Homo sapiens: one gene and its partners. The protein of the gene in region 7 purifies or fractionates together with the protein of the main gene of each other region. This does not show direct contact. Each region holds a gene or a part of one and is shown on either strand. Other genes may lie near its edges.

Region 1 (3,500 bases), on a different chromosome or scaffold from region 7:
CACTGGCCTCAGCTCATTTAATCCTTCCACAATCCTACAGGGGGAGGGACAGCCTTCCCACGTGACCGATGGGGAAACTGAGGCCGGGAGAGGGAAGTGACTCGCCCCTGGCTCCCTCCAGAGTGTGCCCCCACTGCCCCGTGCTGGCCAGCCCAGGGCAGCCCAGGCCACAGGCAGGACTCAGAAAGAAGCTTCTGAGAGCCAGCTGCGCACTGTCCCCGGAGACCCCTTCTGCCCAGTGCACAGGCCCACAGGCAGGTGGCAACCGAGCCTGCCCCAGCAGAGACCCCTGGCGTGCACCAGACCAGCCTGCAGGGCATTGGGGAGGTGTCGGGCCACTCCTCTCCACTTCCCTGCGTGATCTGCCTTCAGTCAGCCAATGACGGTCACTCGCCAAGCATCTCTGAGACCTGCACAGCTCAATGACATGGGCAGGGAAGCAGGGGACCAAGGACACGCAGCTGACGATGGCGACGAGAAGGGAAGGGGGCTGCTAAGACACACGGGTCAGGGGTCCTGCTCCCAGGGACACTAGGCGATGTCTGGGGACTTCTGTGGTTGTCACAACTTGGGGGTGCTCCTGGTCTGGTGTGGGTGGAGGCCAGGGACGCTGCTCAGTACCCTGCAGTGCCCAAGACAGCTCCACCCCAGAGAACGATCCAGTGTAAAACACCCACGGAGCCGAGGCTGGGGAATCCTGATCAAGGTGTCTGTGGGCAGATCCCAGATCCCAGATCCCAGGGCAGGATCCCCCATGGAGCAGTTTCTCAGAGCACCCAATGTGTGCCACACACGCCAGGTGCTGTGGACGCGACAAGATATCACCACACCGGCAGCGGAAGCAGCAGCCAGCATTCCGTGGGTCCCCACGTGCGGCAGGATGGGGATCACCACCGAGTCCTCACCCCACCGCCCCCTGAGGAAACTGAGGCACAGACCTGAAGTCCCACAGTTACAAGAGGCAGAGGTAGGCTCTGAACCTGAGTCTCCCCAGGCCACGTACCTGATCCGGACACCACACTGCTCCCAGGCCCTGCAGGTGGCCCGAAGACCCACCCACCAGTGCTGTCCTGAAAGCGCCTGTCGGCAGACTGCGGGAGGCCAGGCTGGACCAGGAACCCCCACAGCAGAGACCATCGGAGGCTTCTGACCCAGAGGCAGGGAGTGGGGATGGAGGGTGGGAGACTGGACCACAGACATCTTGATGGCAGGGGAGGGATGTGGCCAGGCCCAGATGACAGCGAGAGTCTGGATCCAGGGCAGCCAATTCTAAGACCTGCCAGGTGCCCTACAGATGACAGACATGGTGGGAGGCCCCCCGGGCGGGATGCTCCACACAGGGCCTGGCGGCAGGAGCTACATGCACCTGCAACCACCTGCACGCCAGCAAACCGGCACTTAGGATCCCGGTTCTGCGAAAGGACTTAATTTCTGCCAGATAATGACCCTGCACGTGGGCCTTCCCAGAGCCCCTGGCCGCCCCTAATCGCATCCACCGCTCTCAGTCACCCAGGTGGGCAAGCCATACAAGGCTTCCCATCCTCCACGCACAAGCTGGGGTGCCCAGTGGGGAGAACACAGCCCTGCTGGGGACCCAGAAGGGGCGCTGGGTCCCAGCTGTCTACAGGGTAGGGCCGAGCAGGCCCCGCGAGCGCCCCTCTAAGATCCGTCCGACTCCACCACACACCTCTCCAACCTCCTGATGCCACGGCGTCCTCCCCGTGCTGCCCAGGGTCCAGGTCCCAGACAGAGACAGGCTCCACCACAAGACTCAGAAAGTGAAACCTCTCGTGGTTAAATCTCGGAGGAAAGCACTTCCTCCACTCTCACTACAGCACCGGCAGAGCCGGGCAGGAGGCTCGGGAGGAAGCTCCACGGAGCTCACAGCTGTGGAACGGAGCTTCCCGGACCATGCCCGGGAAAAGCAGACCCTTTCAGCCACAATCATCATAACTGATTACATGTAAACACAAAGGACGTGAGAGCAGGCCCGGACCAAGTCCCCACGTCTCCCTGGCCTGGGCTCGGGCTTGGGAAGTCAAGGTTGGACGAGGCCATCCAAGGGCGCTTCCTGCTCCCAGAGTCTTCTGGGACACGGCACAGCCACCCTGCCAGGCGCCAGAGGCCACGCTCCACGCCTCCCAACACTGGGCCAACAGAGGCCCGGCCCTTCCCGTGGGGCCACCGCACCCCATGCTGGATCCCGGGCCTTGTCACTGCCCCGTGGGGGCTGGCGCAGGCCGGACAGGAAGCCTCCGGAACTAACCATCCTGCTTTATTTAGAAAGCCTGGAGCCACTCCGGCTCAGCCTCGCTAGCAGCCTCAGGCCCTGGGAACAGGCATTCCCATGGAAGTCCCCACGTTTCCAACCACAAACCTGCCACAAAGAACTATACGGGGGTCCCCTCCACAGTTTACCAGTGAGACGGAAACCTAACAGCCGAGGGCTGCCCGTGATAGGCAGAAGCCCAGCGGGCCTGGGGAATGGGAACCCAGATCCAAGAGCTGCTGGCAGGGCCTGCAAGAGCTCTCCAGGCCACAGGGCGGACCCCAGGATGGCGGCGGCGCGGACGGAGGCGGGAGCAGCGTGTGCACTAAGTGCGCAGTACGTGCTTGCCACTCCTGTACCCATCCACAGCTGTCACCAGCATCGACAGAAGTGTGCATAGGGACAAACCTGGAATACCACGGGTATAAAACAATACATGCATTCACATTCATGCATACACTGAGTAGTGAATTCACACACACACGGCTTTGACGGTGCTTAGAAAAATACTCTATAAGCACTCATGGAAACTTCTGACAAAATAATTTGCACTCATTATCCCTCAGCTTTGCCACGAGCATTTTACGTTGTACGCTACCACACAGTAAAGGGTCTCAAATGGGGGCAACGTGCCCCCCAAGGGACAATGGGCACTGTCTAGAGACATCTGTGGTTATCACGACTTGGGGGAGCTCCTGGCATGGAGTGGGTGGAGGCCTCGGACACTGCTCAGCACCCTGCAGTGCCCAGGGCAGCCCCACCCCAGAGACCAACCCGGACCAATGTGCACAGGGCCCCGGGGAGACCTGTTGTACGTAACGGAGAGGCCCATCTGAGGCGTGAACAGCACATTTTAGCCGCCGCGGGAGAGGCGGCACGGCAGCCGGAGCCCCGTCCAGCTCTAGGGCTCCGTAAGGTCCCCCCCACCCCGAAAACGGGGCACGGAATGTCCTCGCCAGGCTGACCGACCTCACAGGCCGTGTGCAGCCCCAGGGAGGCAGTGGATGAGAGCGAGCAGACGCGGCGTTCTTCCAGAACATGCTCCACCTGGTTGCAAACCCAGGAGTCAGGGCAGGGCCCTGGAGCCCTGCTGCCCCAGAGCCTGGAAGAAACCAGCACCACCCACATAAACGAGACCCTCCTGGGCCCCAGATGCCACAGGGGTGTGGTGGCAGGCCCCTGCCTCCCTCCCCGACATCCACTCCACAACGCTGTACGGGAGCCATGGGGG
Region 2 (3,500 bases), on a different chromosome or scaffold from region 7:
AAGCTTTTACCATGAACAAAATTTGGGCTATGTACTAGATTCCAAGGATGAAAAAGACCATTTCTGTTATCTCTGTATCATTGTCTGCAGCAAGGCAGGCATCTGTTTGTTCCCTTCACATCCTCTGTTCTCAAGCTTGTTGGAAGCTGCTAGTTATAATAATATGGAAAATATAGGTTCTTTGACATATATGACATTCATTTGGGGAAGCTAGGTATCTTTTGGAGCAGCAGAAAATGAGGTCCTGAGATGGGCCTCTGTTAATGCTAATTGGGAGAGCTGTGCGATGTGTGTTAATACTCCTAATACAGAGTTTCAATGAGAGCCTCAGGCTTTAACTCACAAGGTTAGCAGTCAAGGTCTTTTTAACAGCTTAATTCCTACACTTCCCCCACAAGTAGCTTGTACCAGGGTGAGTAGCAGCAGGGATTTCTTCATTAATCAATGGATAAAATTCCCCTCAATAAGATCCACCTTAACAGATTTATAAACAAGAGAACTAGTTGACTCAGTGCAAGATTCTTAGTGCTTCTTCGTTGATGTTCTTTAGCTTCCTATTTTCAGTTTTTTTTGGTTTGTTTCTCTTAACTAGATCCTCAGTTTTTTTAGAGCAAGTACTCTGTTTTACTCATTTTGTACCCCACCATCTGATAAAATACCTGACTCTGAATATGTCTTCAGTAAACATTGATGAAATGGGGTTTGGCAGTACAAATGAAAAGTGATGTGTAGATAGAATATTTGAATATTTCCTGATAGTGTACAGTGTTGTCCTTGAGAATAGAATGAAGGAATCCATGTGGCTATTTTTCTTTAGCTAATTTGGAAAGTATTCTGTTTTTTTTTTTTTGTTTTTGTTTTTGTTTTTTTTTGAGATGGAGTCTTGCTCTGTTGCCCAGGCTGGAGTGCAGTGCTCACTGCCACCTCTGCCTCCCGGGTTCAAGCTGTTCTGCCTCAGCCTCCCGAGTAGCTGGGACTACAGGCGCATGCCACCACACCCGGCTAATTTTTTGCATTTTTAGTAGAGACGGGGTTTCACCAGGAAAGTATTCTTAACTGAGTTAACAGAAAAATTAAGCTGCAGGCAAATTTGTTTTTACTAATTTATTTCCCAGCTCTTCAGATGACTGTTCTCTATTAAGTAGTGCAATAGTAGTACCTAAAATTCGTGTAATCACATTAAGTGTTTAATTCCAGATGTTGTTGAGATCATTCCTACTCAAAGTGTGGACCAAGGACAGCAGCATTCACATCACCTTGGATCTTGTTAGAAATGCGGAATCTTAGGCCCACCCTAAATCTACTGAGTCAAAATCTACATTTTAACAGGGTCCCTAGGTGATTCATGTGCACACTAATGTTTGAGAAGCACACATTTATAAATTATAGCTTTCCATTTGATTCATGTTTCTTATGAATTATGGAAGTGAGTGTATATGTGAGCCTGCATTAGTGAGGTAGCTTATGGAATGCATGTCAACCACACTTAACAGATCATTAGTTTTAAAAAAACACATGCTAGGCTGGGCATGGTGGCTCATGCCTGTAATCCCAGCACTTTGGGAGGCCGAGGCAGGTAGATCACCTGAAGTCAGGAGTTCCAACATGGCAAAACCCTGTCTCTACTAAAAATACAAAAATTAGCTGGGTTTGGTGGTGTGCACCTGTAATCCCAGCTACTTGGGAGGCTCAGGTAGGAGAATCGCGTGAACCTGGGAGGCGGAGGTTGCAGTGAGCTGAGATTGCGCTACTGAACTCCAGCCTAAGCAACAGAGTAAGACTCCATCTCAAAAAAAAAAAAAAACCAGCCAAACAAAAAAACACATGGTAAATGATCCTGTTTGATTTTTGTACACTTTTGATTAATCTATATATTCTGTTTCTCCAGGTCGGCATTTCCCCAAACGTCCAAAGCATATGCTTGTAGTGGAAGCAAAGTTTGATGGAGAACAGTTGGCTACTGATCCTGTGGACCACACTGACCAGCCAGAATTTGCTACTGAGTTAGCTTGGGAAATTGACAGGAAAGCGCTTCATCAGCACAGGTGATTATCATTTTCATTTTAGCTTCTTTATTGGTTTCTTATTTTTCAGGCTGTTATAAATAAATACAGTTTGAGTATTTAATACTTGGGACCAGAAGTATTTTCGGATTTTTGGAATATCTGCATAATCAAAGATACCTTGGGGATGGGACCCAAGTCTAAACATGAAATTTATTTGTTTTACATTATACGCATAGTCAAAGGTAGTTTTATATAATATTTTAAATAAATTTTCATAAAATGAAGTATGTTAAATGCTTGTGTGTGGAATTTTCCGTTTGTGGCATTATGTCAGCACTCAAAGTTTTAGAATTTGGAGCATTTCAAATTAGGAATGTTCAACCTATAAATTTTGTATCTGTCATTACGTTTAATAATTATAGTTATTGAGTGTTTTTTTAAATGTGACAGGAAATTTTTAAAGTACTTTGCAACAATAACAGTTAAACATCAGAACAACACTATGAAGTTGTTATTTTTATTTCGCCCATATTATAGATGAGGAAACCGAGGCCTGAGATGTTAAGTATTAGTAACTTGTTTTAAGTCTGTTAGCTTAGTAGTGGTAGAGCCCAGGCAATCCAGCTTCAGAGCCTAAGCTTTTACACTACACTTACACTGAGCTGTTTGGGTTTTTTTTTTTTCCTAATGTGTGAGACAGTAGATATTCTAGAAATACCTTGATGATACCTACTCATTATTAAATATGGTTGGAATTCCTTGTAATTTCTGTTAATTTATTTATTGTATATTTACCTGGCTTGCCAAGGATATATAGAGGGGTATCCAGTGAAAAGTTATGAAAGTAATTCTATCAAGGTTTCTTTCTAATTAATTTATATTTAATTTTAAACAAAACCACTTTATTAGTATATAAAATAGACTTAAAGTTATAGTATATATTTTTTGTGAACTCTGACTAGAAGCAGGCAACAACAATAAAAGCAATACTCTTATTTATTTAAGGATTAAAAATATATTTTCTTCTGGAAAACATGTTATCACTTTAATACTTGCTTGTTCTCAGTACTAAATTAAATCAAAATGGAAAGTTAAAAAAAAGGAAAGCAAGGAAAACTCTATTTACCTCTGTTGCTAGAGTAGTCCATGGATTTATTTGAAGAAGTATTGCATTCTTAGAGAATATCAATGTTGGATTTCCTTTCAGTGGTGTCTATAATGGAGTCCTGCTATGAGCTGTTAGGGCTTCCATTTTGTTAGTGCCAGGTTAGTACCACTCTGATTGTTGTAGGCTGAGAAAATACAGATAAATTGAATTTATAAGTGATGATTTTGTGCTAAGTGCAGTTCTATAATAACTCCACTAGATAAAAGCAGTGGCAAAATCCATTCAGCTTAATGCATGAGCCAGTTGAGGGGTTCCGAACTAAAACAGCCCATGCTAAACAAGCCAATATCATTCTTTCAGAACACTGTTATGTGTTATATTATTAA
Region 3 (3,500 bases), on a different chromosome or scaffold from region 7:
TGCTGGGTTCAAAACAAAAGAAATTAACAGCAAGCGCGGGGTGGATGTTCAAAAAAACCACAAACCTGATTTCATGGAAACACACCTTTCCCGAGAGCAGTGATTCTCAGCTCGGGAGATGCAGGGAGAGCCCCCAATTAGCCAACGGTTTCATTTTCTCCTCGTGGGTTAAAATGATTAGTTTATGTTTAATGTTGTGTCGAGGCATTATTTACCTGCACTGAGTGGGGAGTGTGTGACCTGAATGTGCAGCTGCTGCCTGAGTACCCACGGGAGGAGGAAGGCGCCGCTCTTACCTGCATGAGCTCAACGTTTCCAAAGAACCGGCTCACGGGCATTGGCTGATTGCTGTCGTCATCTAGAAAGACGCTGTTGTCCATCTGAAGTGGTGGCTTCTGCACATCCTCTGTCTGTAGCCCTGGCTCATTCTGCTTCTGCACAGTGGAGCTGCTGTTGGATTCTTCTGCTCCGGACCCGGCACTGTGTTTTGGCACGGACAGGCCATCTCTAGTCTTTGCTAAGCGAGAGTCACTCACAACTCTGCAGCCACCGAGAGGAAGACTTGCAGCCCCCTGCTGCACAGAAACGCCAGCCTCGCTGCCTGGAAGCAAGGCACTGCCTTCAGCAAACTCATTTTCACAAGGGGTCTCAGGTGTCACTTTTGGCAAAGAAGCGCTGTCATTCTTAGGGACAAGCTTCTGTAATTCTGACTTCACAAGATGTCCTTTGTCACATTTGAACTTCTTGGACGTTCGCGTGTCTGTGGCTTTGTGGGATGAGGAAGTCTGTCAAGAAAAAAAATGTAAGGGGAACCAGACATATCTAGCAAATAAAACAGGCCTCAATCCAGAGGCTAGTATTTCTTCTCACATCGGAAATGATAAAGATGCTGTGACCACAACTTTCACAGATCGTCATTTCACTGTTTTGCCACCAAGGGACAAAATACAAGCGAGACTGAATCTAGACACACCCCACACCACTCCTACACTTTCAGTTTTCCCTAGTGGCGTTACAGCTCCACACCACTCCTACACTTTCAGTTTCCCCTAGTGGCGTTACAGCTCCTCAGGTGAATTCTGAAGCATATATTTATATATTATACAATTACAGTAAAAGAATCCAGCTTTCATTCATTTCTGCTAGGGCATAAGCTCTGTGAAGGCAGGGGTCTTTGCTTTATTCACCAATTAGTGCCTGGCACACAGTAGGTGCTCAAGAAATATTTGTGAAATTGACTTCGACAAAATTTTACCAAGCACCTCATCATGAGCAAAGCTCTGTGCTACACGCTGGCATATGGCCAAGTCCTAACCCCTCAACTGTAGGCTCCGTGAAGCGGCTCTACTTCACCGGTAAGTTCAGGAACTCGCTCCTCGGAATCGATGGCTGGGCTAGGGTGAACGGCAGACGGCATGAGATTCCTTTCCCCACCCACTCTGCCTTTCTCTTCAAGCCTCTGGCGGTGAGGCTGCACGGCAATGGGCCAGCATGACTCCATAGCACGCTAAGAGCAGAGCGATGAGCACAAGTGGCCTCAGAGCCTGGTTTAGACACACACACGGGTGGGCAGGTGCTAGGATCAGAGCCCGGGTCTAGACACACACACGGGTGGGAGGGTGCTAGGATCAGGGCCCGGGTCTAGACACACACACGGGTGGGCGGGTGCTAGGATCAGAGCCCGGGTCTAGACACACACACGGGTGGGCGGGTGCTAGGATCAGGGCCCGGGTCTAGACACACACACGGGTGGGCGGGTGCTAGGATCAGGGCCCGGGTCTAGACACACACACGGGTGGGCGGGTGCTAGGATCAGGGCCCGGGTCTAGACACACACACGGGTGGGCGGGTGCTAGGATCAGGGCCCGGGTCTAGACACACACACGGGTGGGCGGGTGCTAGGATCAGGGCCCGGGTCTAGACACACACACGGGTGGGCGGGTGCTAGGATCAGGGCCCGGGTCTAGACACACACACGGGTGGGCGGGTGCTAGGATCAGGGCCCGGGTCTAGACACACACACGGGTGGGCGGGTGCTAGGATCAGGGCCCGGGTCTAGACACACACACGGGTGGGCGGGTGCTAGGATCAGGGCCCGGGTCTAGACACACACACGGGTGGGCGGGTGCTAGGATCAGGGCCCGGGTCTAGACACACACACGGGTGGGCGGGTGCTAGGATCAGGGCCCGGGTCTAGACACACACACGGGTGGGAGGGTGCTAGGATCAGGGCCCGGGTCTAGACACACACACGGGTGGGAGGGTGCTAGGATCAGGGCCCGGGTCTAGACACACACACGGGTGGGCGGGTGCTAGGATCAGGGCCCGGGTCTAGACACACACACGGGTGGGCGGGTGCTAGGATCAGAGCCCGGGTCTAGACACACACACGGGTGGGCGGGTGCTAGGAGAGCCAGCCCTGGCCTGCAGAGTGTGTCTTTCTCTGAAGGCAATTACAGTGCTGTCACCTTTTCATCTGCAATAGTCCCCCTCTGGCAGATAAGTAACAGTCGATATTTTTCTAAAGCAACACATCTTGGAGTGGCAATTTTGTATAAAAATGGACCCTCGAGTCAGGATCTTGGCGTTCTCCACGGTAACAGGGCTCACCAGACATGCTGTCTTGGCAGACGTGGAACCAGCAACTTCCTGGGCAGAGGCCAACCTGGCTGCCGAACAACTTCGTGCTTTCAAGCGCGCTGAAGACCGCACTGCACCTGTGAGCTAGAGAGATTGAGAGCCACTCAGAGAGTGCTCTCAGGAAGGCAGCATGAACATGTAGACGAGAATTTCCCACCTAAAGAACACCCGAAGACCGCCCCTCCCACTCCCAGGATTTTATCATCTTTGTGGAGACAGCTGTGGCCCGAATGTGTAAATCCAAATGAAACTGTGCCTGGATTTAGGATACAGGATCTACTATTTCCACGATTTTGGAGGCTTGGGACGATCTGTCCCCCTTATCTTGTATATTTCTAGTAGCCACCATTTGTCCTTTAGTGGAAATTAAGTCAACTTCAAAGTGTTTAGAATAAGCAGCACATGCCCTTCCTTAGAAGGCTCTCCAACTTTCATACGTTGTCAAAGTTTTTAAAAAAAGGTAACATGAGGAAACCAAAGTTTCTCTTCCTCAAATTAGACTCCTATTCTATTAGCTGAATGCAGCTAGCGACTGTCTCACAAATTTTAATATTAACAAACTGGTCCACCTCTCTTTTATCCTGAATGCAAAGCAAACTCCTCTAATAACAAGAAAGAAATTAATTAAAGACATAACATTTAAAATAACTATTTAGGAATAATTTTCGGCATTCAGAAAGTTGCAAAAAATAGTACAAAGAAACTGGTGTGATAGCTCACACCTGTAATCCCAGCTACTTGGGAAGCTGAGGTAGGAGGATCGCTCGAGCCCAGGAGTTCAAGACCAGCCTGGGCAATACAGCGAAAGCCCATCTTTAAAAAATTTTTTTAAAAATTAGCCAGGTGTGGTGGTGTGCACC
Region 4 (3,500 bases), on a different chromosome or scaffold from region 7:
TCTTCTGACCCACAGAACTAGCACTTTTTTATTCAAAAACAATTTTTGTTGATTTTTTGGCTTTATTTCTTTTTGCACAATTCTTTTTTCATCTTTGTAAATCTATTATACATCATATGTAGAATTTTGTTCAATATGAGTCAGCTAATATTCAGAGCACCACTGGGGGTGGTTGAAATCATTAGGATGCTTTTCTGAAGAGCATTAAGCAGAACAAACGAAGTCGGCTACCTTTTTCTTCCTTTATAAGCAATCAACGCCTGACACAGAAGCACCCTAACTAATTTTTTTTCTCTATGGTTGAGAGGAGTTACTTCATAGTCTGTGACCGGTGGTGTCTTCTATGTATTTATTACCAGTGACGGCTCTGCTCTTGGGGAAGACGAACCTGGCATCCAGAGGTCACCGTGGACCCTGCATCTGGCTCTCCAGGCTCCAAGTGTTAAAGTAACTCAGAATTTGAAGATTCTGGAGGATTGTTATTTCTAAAAGCATTTTCTGAAATCTTTGAGATGTCAAATTGATTCTCCCCAAGACACTGTGCCCTCTCACCAAGTCAATGACTAAGTTTATCACAGCTTTTAAAAACAGGAATGGCTTGTCCCCTGACATCTACACAATACCGGCACAAGGTTCCCATTAAACTAGCAAGTCGGAAAACTTGGAAGGAAGGAGAAGAAACAACAGGACTTACGAGCCGCTGAGTTGTTAACAGCATGGACTAGCTGTGCAATGGTGTTGGCGAGCTCTTCCTGCAGAGGCGGGGTTGGGGAGAAACATGGGGGTTATCGTGGGGCAACATGAGATGCCTGTGCCGCGGCCTGCTTCCTTCTCCCACTTCCGCTCGTGGGAAGGTCTGCCCCTCTTGTCACTTCCACTAAGAAGTATGTATCCGAATATCTGAATTTTATCAAATGTGTAAGTTCCAATATTGACGGACTATTATGCTAACTTGGTATGTCTGCAAGAACTGTGTTAAGCTACATGTTTAAAAAAGCATCTCTAATTATCAGTTCAGATGAACTAGAGATGAAATAAATTAGTTATCAGTTCCTGGCTTTATAACTATATCTGGCCACGTGCAGTGGCTCATGCCTGTAATCCTAGCACTTTGGGAGGCCGAGGCAGGTGGATCACCTGAGGTCAGGAGTTCAAGACCAGCCTGACCAAGATGGCACTCCCCACATCTCTACTAAAAATTCAAAAATTAGTCAGGCGTGGTGGCGTGTGCCTGTAGTTCCAGCTACTCGAGAGGCTGAGACAGAATTGCTTGAACTCGGAGGTAGAGGGTGCAGTGAGCCAAGATCATGCCATTGCACTCCAGCCTGGGTGACAGAGCTAGACTCCATCTCAAAACAACAACAACAACCAAAAAACCCCCATCTAAGCTGGGCTGGGCAGCTCATGCCTGTAATGGGAGCCCGAGCACTTTGGGAGGCCGAGGCGGGTGGATCGCTCGAGTCCAGGAGTTCAACGCCAGCCTAGGCAACACAATGAGACCCAGTCCCTACAAAAAATACAAAAATTAGCCAGGCATGGAGGCGTGCACCTGTAGTCCCAGCTACTCGGGTGGCTGAGGCAGGAGGATCAGCTGAGCAATAGGGAGGTTGGGGCTGTAGTGAGCCATGATGGCACCCCTGCACTTCAGCCTGGGCAACAGAGTGAAACTCTGTAAAAAAAAAAAAAAAAAAAGAAAACTTCATCATAATCCCAGAAATGATGTGAAACACAAAGACAGCAGGGCAGACCTCACAGAGGTGAGATGCTGGGGATGCTCACTGCACGCCATGGGAAAGTCCTCCCTACAGCTTGCTCAGAGACAAGGTGGAATGTGAAGGTAAACTCAGCCTTCTGGGCTCTGTCCTGGGTGAAGGGGTCCCTGAGAGAGCATGCCCTGCTGAGGTGCAGCAGGCTCACTCTGGGGAGACGCCCTCTCTTCTGAGGTTCCGTGAGAAAAGCACACTCCTCATCAGTCTGACTCACACCACACCCGGTCTGTTTTCCTTCGTGGGAAAATGAGATTTCTGTCCATTGGTTTTCTTCCTCCACTAAAGCTGTTGGTTGTTACTTTTGAATGTAATATAAAAATATTTTGCCCTGCTCCTACTCAAAATATGTTCAGTAAAATAAAAATAAATTAAAACAAGTTATTACGCAGCACGGGAGAAGTGGCAAGGCTGCACATTAAAACCCAGAAAAGTAAAATCTTGCCCTGAGGACCTGTCATCTGCATCAGAGACTTGCAAGCACTTCTCAAGGCTGGTTCCTCTACCTCAGGGGTGTCCAGTCTTTTGCCTTCCCTGGGTCACACTGGAAGAACTGTCTTGGGCCACACACAGTATACACTAACACTAGTAATAGTGAAGAGCTTAAAAAAAAAAATCTCATAAGGTCCTAAGAAAGTTTCCGAATTTGTGTTGGGCTGCATTCAAAGCCATCCTGGGCCACATGTGGCTGTGGGTTGGACAAGCCTGCTCTCCCTCTACAGAGGCAGATCGGATCTACTTTCATGGGTCAGAACAAAGCTTTTAAAAAGTGAAAGTCACATCTTTAGTGTTGGCTTTGGTGGTGGGCTTAGCGGGCTCAGCAGGCCCCGCACAGAGAGACCGAGCCTGCTGCGCGTTTGGGTGACTGCGCAGGCGCACTCGGCTTTAACAGGGAGGCTTTCGCTGAGCGCTACTGCTGCTCTCCATGGAACCCGAAGCCCAGTGACGCGGCTGCCCTCTCCTGGGTTTCACAGGGTCTTGACTAGTTAGTGCTCCTGTCATGCCATCCTTGACCACAAAAAATAAACTTACCAGAAGAGAGAAACTTTAAGTAATGTAAAACCTAGCATGGAACCTATGAAATTTTACAGAGAAATAGTAAATTGACAACGAATGCACATCTTTCCTTTTATTTGAAAAGACAATTCACCTAACTGTGTTGACCCTGCATCCCTTTCTGTATGGACAAGAGGTACGAAAATGACTCCTTGAAGCATGACTGTCAGTGTGCGTCAGTGTATCGGGGGACTGGCACAGCATGAGTGATCAAGTCTCTTATCCATCCACAGCAAGAACCCGGGAGCATGACAAAGGGAACGCATGTTACCTGTAGAAGGGGTTCATCCTGCACCCACATGCAGTAGAAGAGCCCCTTCCAGATTTTCAGAAGTTCTTCCTGACTGAAACCTCCTGGAAGGCAAAACAATACAAACATCTTAGAGTCTATGCATCTCTTTTCTTCAAGTTTAGAAAGTGGTGAAGTATCACATACATTTTAATTCTCTTTCGTTTGCACGTCTTTTTAAAAAATTGAAGCAAACATTTCCTTATTGTTATAAAAGAAACACAAATAAATTACTACTGTACCTGCAGCTTTATCAGCTACAGGGTAGGGTGGCAGTGGTGGCCCGGCCTCAGCGTGAGGAAGCAAATGTCATCACAACACAAAATTCATGAACAAAGTGGCCACTTATGAAATCGGCTCCTCATCAACGCCCTCCCCGCCCACCACGT
Region 5 (3,500 bases), on a different chromosome or scaffold from region 7:
AAAGGTAAGAGTATTTGAGGGAACAAAAAGACCTTGAGAATGGCTAGCCTGGGTGGGGGTGCTACAAGCACGAGAGGTGCAAAAAGAAGCTGAAGGGCCAGGCCTGGATGGAGACAGGTTCTATAAGACACACTAAGGAAACTGTCTTTATGCTGAAGCCAACAGGGATAACCAGAGGCTTTGAAGCATGGAGTGATGAACAAAGGTGCTTTAAAACAGATCAATGGGCCTGGAGCAGTGGCTCATGCCTGTAATGCCAGCAATCGAGAGGCTGAGGTGCGAGGATTGCTTGAGACCAGGAGTTTGAGACTGGCCTGGGCAAGATAGTGAGATCTTGCCTCTATTAAAAAAAATAAAAAATAAAAAAATTAGCCGAGGCCGGGCACAGTGGCTCATGCCTGTAATCCCAGCACTTTGGGAGGCCAAGGCAGGTGGATCACCTGAGGTCAGGAGTTCAAGACCAGCCTGGCCAACATGGTGAAACCCTGTCTCTACTAAAAATACAAAAAAAATTACCTAGGCGTGGTGGCGGGTGCCTGTAATCCCAGCTACTAGGGAGGCTGAGGCAGGAGAATCGCTTGAACCCAGGAGACTGAGGTTGCAGTGAGCCGAGATTTCACTACTACACTCCAGCCTGGGCAACAAGAGCAAAGCTCTGTCTCAAAAAAAAAAAAAAAAAAAAAAGAAAAACAGAAATTAGCTGAGCCTGGTGGCGCATGCCTGCAGCTCCAGCAACTCGGGAGGCTGATGTGGGAGGACTGCTTGAGCTCAAGAAGCAGAGGTTACAGTGAGCCAAGATTACACCACTGCAGTGCAGCCTGGGTGACGGAGCAAGACCTTGTCTCAAAAAAACAAAAACAAATAAAATAAAATAAGATCAATGAAGAATAGGCTAGAATGACACAAATGCAAATAAAAGGACATGATTAAGAAGCTACTGTAAAGGAACCCAGATGAGAAAAGACACTGATCCAAACTAGGATGATGCCAGCGTAGACAAAGAGAAATGAATGACTCGATTCAAGAGATTATGAGGACTATGTTCAACCTCATCAAACCATATGCATTAAATATGTATGATTTTTAATATATCAAGTATGCCTCAATAGAGCTGTTGATCTATCTATCTATCTATCTATATCTATAACATATGTATAAAGATACTGATGAGTAGACTCAATGAGGTTTACTGCTTGAATGAATGGGGCAGCAGGTGTGGGGAGCAAGTTTTCTAGCTTGGGAAGATGGTACCATTTACCTAGAACACTGGAAGCCTGGGTTTTCCCGCTCCCACCCAGAATAGAGCCTACCCTGAAAGACAAACTAACAAAATTCCCATAACCCACAACTATTTGGAAAAGGGAAAAATTTCCCCAGAAACTGAACTAGGTGTGCTGCTGCATATCTCCTGCCCCCATAAATGTCTTTGCAGTGGCTTGCCTCAAAAACAGAAGGAATGAAGAAGGTAGCTACAGAAAGTCCTACAATATCTCCATGTCCCAGATGGTTAAAAAAAAAAAAAAGGCAGGGGCTGGGCACAGTGGCTCACGCCTGTAAGCCCAGCACTTTGGGAGGCCGAGGCGGGCGTATCACGAAGTCAGGAGATCAAGACCATCCTGGTTAACACAGTGAAACCCCACCTCTACTAAAAATAAAAAAATTAGCCGGGCGTGGTGGTGGGCACCTGTAGTCCCAGCCACTCGGAAGGCTGAGGCAGGAGAATGGCATGAACCTGGGAGGCGGAGCTTGCAGTGAGTGGAGTCGCACCACTGCACTCCAGCCTGGGCGACAGAGAGAGACTCAGTCTCAAAAAAAAAAAAAAAGAAAAAAAAAGGACCACAAAGCTGAGCGTGGTGGCTCACACTTGTAATACCAGCACTTTGGGAGGCTGAGGCGGGCAGATCACCTGAGGTTGGGAGTTCCGAGATCAGCCTGACCAACATGGAAAAACCCAGTCTCTACTAAAGATATAAAATTAGCTGAGCGCGGTGGCGCATGCCTGTAATCCCAGCTACTCGGGAGGCTGAGGCAGGAGAATCGCTTGAACCCGGGAGGTGGAGGTTGTGGTGAGCCGAGATCGCGCCATTGCACTCCAGCCTGGGCAACAAGAGCAAACTCTGTCTCAAAAAAAAAAAAAAAGTCCTACAAATTTGCCGAGCGTGAGCTGTGTTCAGAGCTTGTGGGACAGGGGGACACAGGGATGGGGAGATGAGGGGTTAGCAGGGGCTTGGAATGGACACTTACGTGGGGAAAGGTGATTTTTCGGAGAGCGGCATCGTAATTCTTTACTTCCACCTTCTCCATGAGAGGACGAAAGACTAAGTGGGTGTCAGTGCCTGGGAAAGCAGGGGAGAAGGTGTACAGAATTAGAAGTCATCCTCACGAGAACAGCCAGAACTGGGCAGGGTAAAGCAGCAGCCTCACCAGAGGGGGAACCCACCTCCAGATATCAGCGCTGTTGGGCTGTGGGCCACAGTGCGCACGTCATGAGTGTGATGCTGGAACGGTTTTGTCCGCACCCACTGCTTCTCACTGCTGTTAGATGTCACAGGGACCAGCTGAAAATGGAAGACTGTTCCCTCGGCTGTGCCCACCACGAAACTGTCTTCTTGCTGAGGAATTAAATCATGAGGGAGGTACACGTAAGCAAAACAAGGTCTGGTTGGAAAAATATTCCGAGGCTTTCTGTCTCAGCAGCTTAGGGGTAAACCTATGCCCAGAATCAGTAGGAAAGTTACAAGGGTCTTTTCCTTCCAGAAGCTAAGGATTCCATCAAAGGAGCAAGCTCAGACACTGGTAACAATGCGCCCCCTACTGACAAAATTAACGTCTACAGTACAGCAACGCTTCATATACCCAACATAGATCTCCTTAGAATAGCATTGAGAGAGAGAAAATACCTAGGACCTACTTGAGAAATTTAAATCCTTCGAAAGAACATAAGAGAAAACCTAACAAAGAAATTCATATCATGTTATTTAATACGAATATTTAACATGATCAAGTTATTATCACTAAAGAAATGTATTAAACCAATAAAAATACTGAAAATCCTTTATTTGGAACTAGAACAGGTGTTTCTTAATAACGTTTATTTCATTAAAAATATCCAAGAAACATCAGCCAGGCATGGTGGCTCACTCCTATAATCCCAGCACTTTGAGAAGCTGAGCTGGGTGGATCACTTGAGGCCAGGAGTTTGAGACCAGCCTGGCCAACATGGTGAACCCCGTCGCTACTAAAAATACAAAAATTAGCTGGGCGTGGTGGCGCATGCCTGTAATCCCAACTATTTGGACGGCTGAGGCACGAGAATCACTTGAACCTGGGAGGCAGAGGTTGCAGTACGCCAAGATCGCACCACTGCACTCCAGCCTGGGCAACAGGGCGAGACTCTGGCTTAAAAAAAGAAAAAAAAATGCAAGAAACACCAATAAAAAAGTTTCTTAAATAAACAAGGTGGGCAGAGCAGCACAAACCTGTAGTCCCAGCTACTCAGG
Region 6 (3,500 bases), on a different chromosome or scaffold from region 7:
ATGGAGTTTCACTCTTGTTGCCCAGGCTGGAGTGCAATGGCGCGGTCTCGGCTCACCGCACCTTCTGCCTCCTGGGTTCATGTGATTCTCCTGCTTCAGCTCCCAAGTAGCCGAGATTACAGGCATGTGCCACCATGCCCGGCTGATTTTGTATTTTTAGTAGAGACAGGGTTTCTCCATGTTGGTCAGGCTGCTCTTTAACTCCCGACCTCAGGTGATCTGCCCACCTCGGCCTCCAAAAGTGCTGGGATTACTACAGGTGTGAGCCACCGCACCCGGCTAATACCTTTTCTTTACTCCCAAGTTTGATCTTCAGATGACAGTGGCTCATGGTCTGTCCTTCTGTTTTTTTTTTTTCCTTTTTTTCTTTTTAAATTTTTGAAACAGAGTCTTACTCTGTGGCCCAGGCTGGAGGGCAGTGGCACGATTTCGGCTCACTGCAACCTCTGCCTCCCAGGTTGAAGCAATTCTCATGCCTCAGCCTCCTGAGTAGCTGGGATTACAGGTGTGTGTCACCACACCTGGCTAGTTTTTATTATTTTTGGTAGACATCGGGTTATGCCGTGTTGGCCAGGCTGGTCTTGAACTCCTGGCCTCAAGTGATCTGCCCACCTTGGCCTCCCGAAGTGCTGGGATTACAGACCTGAGCCACCACACCCGGCCCTTCTATTTTTTTTATAAGTGGCTAGTCAAAGTTTTTATACGGATGTTATAGTTAGGGCTGGTATACAGCTCTTTTTTTTTTTTTTTAGACAGAGCTTTGCTCTTGTCGCCCAGGCTGGAGTGCAGTGGCACAATCTTGGCTCACTGCAGCCTCCACCTCCCAGGTTCAAGCAATTCTCCTGCCTCAGCTTCCCAAGTAGCTGGGATTACAGGCATGTGCCACCACGCCCAGCTATTTTGTATTTTTAGTAGAGATGGAGTTTCACCATGTTGGTCAGGCTGGTCTCGAACTCCTGACCTCAGGTGATTCACCCACCTTGGCCTCCCAAAGTGCTTGAATTACAGGTGTGAGCCACCGTGTCCGGCCTACAGCTCATTTTTTAAGGGATTCAGTGATGAATTAGTTTGTAATTAACATTACTAATCTTTGTTTTTCTTCACTGTTGTACAGATTTTAATGTTTGTATTTTGTTTTCAGAAAATAGAAATTTGCATTTTATACTCGTTTTCAAGGTGATTTTTGACAAAGCTTTTCCTTTTTATTAGGAAGGTGAAAGTATACAGCACAACTTCCTACAAAGTAGTCCACAGTTTTGATTATGCAGCTTCAATTTTGAGTCTTGCCCTTGCAGTAAGTACCTTTACCTATTTTTAAGTCTGTCACTAACCCTGCCTGTTAAATGAAACTAAAATGGAACTTTGGGCTTTATTTTTAGATTTGAGTAACTTTTCTTGCCACATCAGATATTTGAGTTAAGACAATTGCTGGAATATGTAACTCGTCCTATTGACTCAGCATGAATTCAGATTTAGGTCCCACTCACTGTAGAACTTCAAACTAAATACAGTGCTCTAGGCATTGTTAACATTAAACGCAGGACCTGGGAAGCTGGTAAATCTCTCTTCAACTCATTTAACTCAAGAGTATTATAGTACACTAGAAAGGCAGATTAGCTCTCTGAGCAGAAAAAAAGATGTGGGGAGAAGGGGACAACAAAATGAAATATCTCCTTTTCTTTGTTACTGCTCTTTCTGAAATGTATACTGTCAAGTTTTATGAGAAGCCACATTTGGGCAGGAAGGCATTTGACTATATTATATAGAAATCTGATTTGGGAGAGGAAAAGCTTATTAAAAATATTTTTGGGGGGCAAGATCATAAAAGTCTTGCTACTGTGTAATCTTTGATGCCGTTAACTATGTATTATACAAACTTTGCCAGTGATATTTTACAAGTATAAGTTCTGTCAATGTAGTTGTATCCTAAGGAAAAAATGATTTCGCTTTAACGTCTTGCACCAATCATCGTTAGGCAGACTATGTGTATTTGAATGGAACTGTTGGTGAATGTATGGACAAGCAGCAAACACATGGTAAATGTGTTTTGAAGTAAAAGTACTATAAATTACGAGTTAAGAATAGACTAACTTATTTTTCTAATTGTTATTAGCATGAAGATGAGACAATAGTTGTAGGAATGACCAATGGAATACTGAGTGTTAAACATCGGAAATCTGAAGCAAAGAAGGAATCACTTCCCAGAAGAAGAAGGCCTGCATATCGAACCTTTATTAAAGGAAAAAATTACATGAAGCAACGGGTATTTGTGCATTTCTCATATTTGTTTAAAGGGTGAAATTTGTTAGAGTAGCCAGCTTCATCCCTGCACATTACTGGAAAGCGTAGTTCACATGGCACTTTATTTTGCTTTTCTCTACATCAGAATTATTTCTAGATTGCTAGATTGGGGACATTATTGATGAGTAATGGGGAACAAGGACTACTTTATGTAATACTCTGCATCATAACATAATGTTATAATGCTTTACTGCATTCAAAATAATGTCTTTCACATACTACCTGATTTGATCTAAATCCCAAGAAGTAGTAGAACCAATCATGTCCCTGTTTGGCACCTGAGAAGACTGAGCGACAAATAATTTGTGATTGATTCAGGATTTCATTACTGGTATCCAGAGTTGTTGAGACTAGATCTCATTATCTCTGATTGTTGTTTGATTTCTCTTTCTACTGTACCACACTGCCTGCCACATAAAGAGAATTGAAATGAGTAATTTTTACCTAGAATTAAGGCAATGGTGCATGTTGTAAGTTAAAATTATAAGAGAGTAAGAACATGTTGATGTAGCAAGTTACTCCTTTTTTTTTTTCTTTTTTTGACTCTGATTAGCAGGATGCATTTTTATTTAATCTACATTATGGGCATATGAACATTATTTGTGACATAGTTCAGAGATACCACTTCATTATGAAAAAGTTTATATTAAATGTATATTTACACAGATGCTGATTTTCCTTCTCTATAAATGTACTTTTCATTGCAGGATGACATTTTGATTAACAGGCCAGCAAAGAAGCACCTAGAATTGTATGACAGGGATCTGAAACATTTTCGGATCTCTAAGGCACTCGATAGAGTTCTTGATGTGAGTGAGCATTTTTTAAAAAATCATGTTATTACTTACCCTGCATATTACCATGACTTGGAACTGTGAAGATAAATATTATTCAAACTTGATAATTTAGTGCAAGACAGTGATTTTTTTTGTGCTGTTTTGTCTACTCATGTTGACTTTGAAAATTTTTCTAGCCCACTTGTACAATAAAGACACCCGAGATTACGGTGTCCATCATAAAGGAGTTAAATCGAAGAGGAGTCCTTGCAAATGCGCTTGCAGGTCGGGATGAGAAGGAAATCAGTCATGTTCTTAATTTTTTGATAAGGTATGTTTTTTGTCTGTGAAACACTTACATTTTGCATCTGAAATCCTTTATCACCAAATAAAAGACATTTAGTTTGATCTTTGTAGAGAACT
Region 7 (3,878 bases):
CTTCCCGGGTTCACGCCATTCTCCTGCCTCAGCCTCCCGAGTAGCTGGGACTACAGGCGCCCGCCACCGCGCCCGGCTAATTTTTTGTATTTTTAGTAGAGACGGGGTTTCACCTTGTTAGCCAGGATGGTCTCGATCTCCTGACCTCATGATCCACCCGCCTCGGCCTCCCAAAGTGCTGGGATTACAGGCGTGAGCCACCGCGCCCGGCCGGGAAAATATTTTAATTAGTAGTAATTTCAGATTGTCGTCTCTGTGGAAAAACCAATTTTGGGCCGGGCATGTTTGCTTACACTTGTAATCCCAGCGTTTTGGGAGGCTGAAGCAGGTGGATTGCTTGAGTCCAGAATTTCAAGACCAGCCTAGGCAACATGGTAAAACCCAGTCTCTACACAAAATAAAAAAAGTAAGCTGGGCGTGCTGGTGTGCACCTGTATTCCCAGCTACTCCAGAGGCCAAGGTGGGAGGATCACTTGAGCCCAGGAGGTCGAGGCTGCAGTGAGGCGAGATTGTGCCACTGCACTACAGCCTGAGCGACAGAGTGAGACCCTGTCTCAAAAAAAAAATCGGTTTTCATAAAAAAATAAAGATCAGTTGAACACTTTGTCTTTGCAGGTCCTGCAGGTTAAGTTCAAAAACTTTTTTTTAGTGGTTTTATTATTGAGAAAATTTCATTTCACCTCTCCCAATAGATAGATGTTTATTTCAAGATACACTGCAGCCTACTGTCAGCACTTCAAACTTGCCAGCCTACTCTTATTCAGGCAGTTTAATTTTTCTGGCTGCTGAATGTTCCTCCAGTCACCAGCCCTTATGGTGCATGGTGCTGATGCAAAGACAGTCATTCCAATGGAAAGGTTGTTCACCACTATTGCCAGTCATGGCAATTCTTCAAAAGGAGTCATTTTTCACAAAATTCAACCTTTCCCTGACAATATGGCCTTATCTTCTATTCTTATGGTCTACAGAAGTCACAGAGAAAGTGCCTATTGCTGTTACTGGAATTTTGGCCGATACTGTGGACGATGTCTGTAGTATCTGTCTTGAAGTCCACAGGCATTCATTTGAGTTGCATTCAGTACAGCTTGGTGGTCCAAATCATTACTTGCAAATCGGTGTTTTAGCCACAAGATCAAATATAGAAACAAATGTAAAGCAAAGTGCAAGACCATGAGAGGAATTCATCACAGTATGTTGGACTTTTCATTTGGAAAAACTTATTTGGCACAATCGATTTGGAAATCATGCTGTCAATTCTCTTTTACTACATGTATCCGAACAATTTCCTGTTAACTAATGTTTTGACTTTTGGTTTTAGTATATTTTAGTACAAAAGTCCAGGAACAAGTTCTTCAGTTGGATCTATCTGAGATGCTGATTGTTCAACTGATGAACAAAACCACCATGTGCTCTACTAAAATATGAGTGTCTGTTTCTTGTAGTCCTTGTAATTTAGTTTTATCCTATCTGTGCATATATAAAATTAGTTTCATTTATCACTATGAGACAAATGATAAAAATATTTTAAAGTAAGCATGTAGCCTGGGCACGGTGGCTCATGCCTGTAATCCCAGCACTTTGGGAGGCCGAGGCTGGTGGATCACAAGGTCAGGAGTTCGAGACCAGCCTGGCCAACATGGTGAAACCCCGTCTCTACTGAAAATAAAAAAATTAGCTGGGCATGGTGGCAGGCACCTGTAATCCCACTATTCAGGAGGCTGAGGCAGGCAAGTTGCTTGAACCTGGGAGGCAGAAGTTGCAGTGAGCTGAGATCGCGCAGCCTGGGTGACAGAGCGAGACTCTGTCTCAGGAAGAAAAAAAAAAGAAAGTAAGCATGTGTAATTCTTATTTAACCTTTTATATTGATCAACAGCCAGAATAAAAGCTACTTGGCCGTAAGGCTAAAAGACCAAGATCTGAGAGATTCAAGGCAACAAGCAGCACAAGCCTTCATACATAATTCATTATATGGGCCAGGAACCAACAGGACTACTGGTAATTTTTTTATGGACTATTTTTCTCACTTTTTACTGCAAATAAAACTGTGAAATGATAAATACCTTTCTTTTCTAGTAAATAAGTTCCTGTCTCTTGCCAACAAGAGGTTACCAGTGAAAAGAGCTGCTGTCCAGTTTTTGAATAATGCTTGGGGTAAGATCCAGCTTTATTCTCCTGTCTCTAATAGCTTTATATGTTGAATAATGTTCTTTTGAAGGAGATAGTTCATAATTATACTTTTCCCCCTTATAATGGCTTATATATTAAGTTACTTGTGAAAAACAGGTCAATGTAGTATGTATATACATCTAAAGTATAATAAGCCCACCCAGTTTTAGTAATTACATTCATATAGAGTAATTAAAAAAATTTTGAATTATGTTTTTCTAATATACTTACTGCAGAAAACTTTATATTCTAGGAATCCAAAAAAAACAAAATGCCAAGAGGTTTAAAAGACGGTGGATGGTCAGAAAGATGAAAACTAAGAAGTAAATCAATGCTAAATGAAGAATCTGTACTTTGTATGTATAGAATTTATCTAATAAATCATTCATAGATCATTTTAAAGGATCATTATAAAAATCATAAACCTATTTGAGGAAGTGCTCAACCACATTTCATTCTTCTGGAGTAGAACTGTGCCTTGCAATCCTAGAGGAAAAAGTGGTTTAAGAAGGAATTGTTTTCTTTTTAATATATTTAACTGAATTCAAGCCATACCCACATCAGCAACAGCACCTCTTCTACTCTCCCCGGGTTAGAGGGGTGGCAAAAATGGCACGGACTAAAAGGAGAAATGGATATTCCAGCAAAGTCTCTAACTGCAGCCTGTAGACAATTTGCTATTAAAGATTCAGTGCACAAAATATAGCTAACAGCTTTTAAATTTTTACTTTTAACCAGTCTGGGGATTTGCTTGCCTGGTGAGTCTCATATGCCATATTATGAATATGAAAATAATGAAGTTAATTTCCTGTTGCCTTTCTGTGTCAGCCACAATATCAGGTCTAACCCTAATCCAGGGATGCCAGTAAACTGAAGGCAATTTTAGGTTGTAGAACTCAGATTAATTGTAGAAACCATTAATTTTAATTGCTCTAATTTTCATAGTAATCATAAAAAGTATGCAAGTACCTAATATATAAACTCAATTGACACTGTATCTGTAGAAGTAAATTTTTAATGGCTGGTTAATTATATCACTACATTTTATTGCAATATAGTACTCATTTAAGCACTTAAAAATGGAAGGTGTACAAAGATTAAATTAAGACACGGTAAATTGACTAAATATTTGGTTTTTATATAAATAAAGGTCATAACCACACCGTTGACATGTAATACTGTTATAATACAACAGTTAAACTTGTGAGTCTACAACAGAAGTCATCTGTAGTTAAACAGGAAACAAAGTTGAAAAAGACCATGTTAAAACAAAACTACTGGGACTAACAGGTCGGGATTGTAAGTAGCAACAAACATATTCACTCAGCTCCTGAGTATTTCAAGTTTTACAGTACACATTAAAAATGATTTCTTCCATCAACACTATAAATTCAAACTGTCGGATGTTTATGCATTTTGCAAGTTACACTGATTGAATGCTTATATGGGAGTGGGGGTCGGAACATCTCCCAATTTGAAGTTTACATCACCCACATGCTAACACAAACACAACTTGTTCCATTTCCTTCCCCTCTCTCCCCCCTCCCCCACAAAGAAGGCAGGATTTTTGGTTTCTTTTAGGTAATTGTTTTAAAGGATTTGTGATGATCAATTTGAACGTCTGAAATTCAGTAATATTTAACTCTTAGACAACTAAGAGGTTAAAGATGGAAAATAATTTCTCCTAACACTAAGTTAGAAAATCATTTGCA

Evidence for each region.
Region 1: the proteins of NOL7 (region 7) and GNA11 purify together in Homo sapiens (affinity purification with mass spectrometry; one large-scale study listed by BioGRID and IntAct). This does not show direct contact.
Region 2: the proteins of NOL7 (region 7) and CEP120 purify together in Homo sapiens (affinity purification with mass spectrometry; 2 studies listed by BioGRID and IntAct, with this or other methods). This does not show direct contact.
Region 3: the proteins of NOL7 (region 7) and C1orf174 purify together in Homo sapiens (co-immunoprecipitation; one large-scale study listed by IntAct). This does not show direct contact.
Region 4: the proteins of NOL7 (region 7) and RRP1B purify together in Homo sapiens (co-immunoprecipitation; one large-scale study listed by IntAct). This does not show direct contact.
Region 5: the proteins of NOL7 (region 7) and UTP4 purify together in Homo sapiens (co-immunoprecipitation; 3 studies listed by BioGRID and IntAct, with this or other methods). This does not show direct contact.
Region 6: the proteins of NOL7 (region 7) and UTP15 purify together in Homo sapiens (co-immunoprecipitation; 3 studies listed by BioGRID and IntAct, with this or other methods). This does not show direct contact.

What each region holds. Positions count from the first base shown.
Region 1 is NC_000019.10:3,097,362-3,100,861, reverse strand, and holds part of GNA11 (guanine nucleotide-binding protein subunit alpha-11), read right to left. Parts: intron 1-3,500. UniProt on the Homo sapiens protein: Guanine nucleotide-binding proteins (G proteins) function as transducers downstream of G protein-coupled receptors (GPCRs) in numerous signaling cascades.
Region 2 is NC_000005.10:123,416,904-123,420,403, reverse strand, and holds part of CEP120 (centrosomal protein of 120 kDa), read left to right. Parts: intron 1-1,888; coding exon 1,889-2,045; intron 2,046-3,500. UniProt on the Homo sapiens protein: Plays a role in the microtubule-dependent coupling of the nucleus and the centrosome.
Region 3 is NC_000001.11:3,890,273-3,893,772, forward strand, and holds part of C1orf174 (UPF0688 protein C1orf174), read right to left. Parts: intron 2,725-3,500; coding exon 2,611-2,724; exon of another isoform or gene 2,477-2,610; coding exon of another isoform or gene 2,469-2,476; intron 1,508-2,468; coding exon of another isoform or gene 1,354-1,507; intron 786-1,353; coding exon 297-785; intron 1-296.
Region 4 is NC_000021.9:43,669,560-43,673,059, reverse strand, and holds part of RRP1B (ribosomal RNA processing protein 1 homolog B), read right to left. Parts: intron 3,177-3,500; coding exon 3,094-3,176; intron 753-3,093; coding exon 695-752; intron 1-694. UniProt on the Homo sapiens protein: Positively regulates DNA damage-induced apoptosis by acting as a transcriptional coactivator of proapoptotic target genes of the transcriptional activator E2F1.
Region 5 is NC_000016.10:69,149,649-69,153,148, reverse strand, and holds part of UTP4 (U3 small nucleolar RNA-associated protein 4 homolog), read right to left. Parts: intron 2,613-3,500; coding exon 2,441-2,612; intron 2,337-2,440; coding exon 2,245-2,336; intron 1-2,244. UniProt on the Homo sapiens protein: Ribosome biogenesis factor. Involved in nucleolar processing of pre-18S ribosomal RNA. Part of the small subunit (SSU) processome, first precursor of the small eukaryotic ribosomal subunit.
Region 6 is NC_000005.10:73,575,743-73,579,242, forward strand, and holds part of UTP15 (U3 small nucleolar RNA-associated protein 15 homolog), read left to right. Parts: intron 1-1,209; coding exon 1,210-1,294; intron 1,295-2,113; coding exon 2,114-2,263; intron 2,264-3,008; coding exon 3,009-3,110; intron 3,111-3,274; coding exon 3,275-3,408; intron 3,409-3,500. UniProt on the Homo sapiens protein: Ribosome biogenesis factor. Involved in nucleolar processing of pre-18S ribosomal RNA. Required for optimal pre-ribosomal RNA transcription by RNA polymerase I.
Region 7 is NC_000006.12:13,618,335-13,622,212, forward strand, and holds the end of NOL7 (U3 small nucleolar RNA-associated protein NOL7), read left to right. Parts: intron 1-1,873; coding exon 1,874-1,995; intron 1,996-2,073; coding exon 2,074-2,151; intron 2,152-2,419; coding exon 2,420-2,493; 3' UTR 2,494-3,378; downstream 3,379-3,878.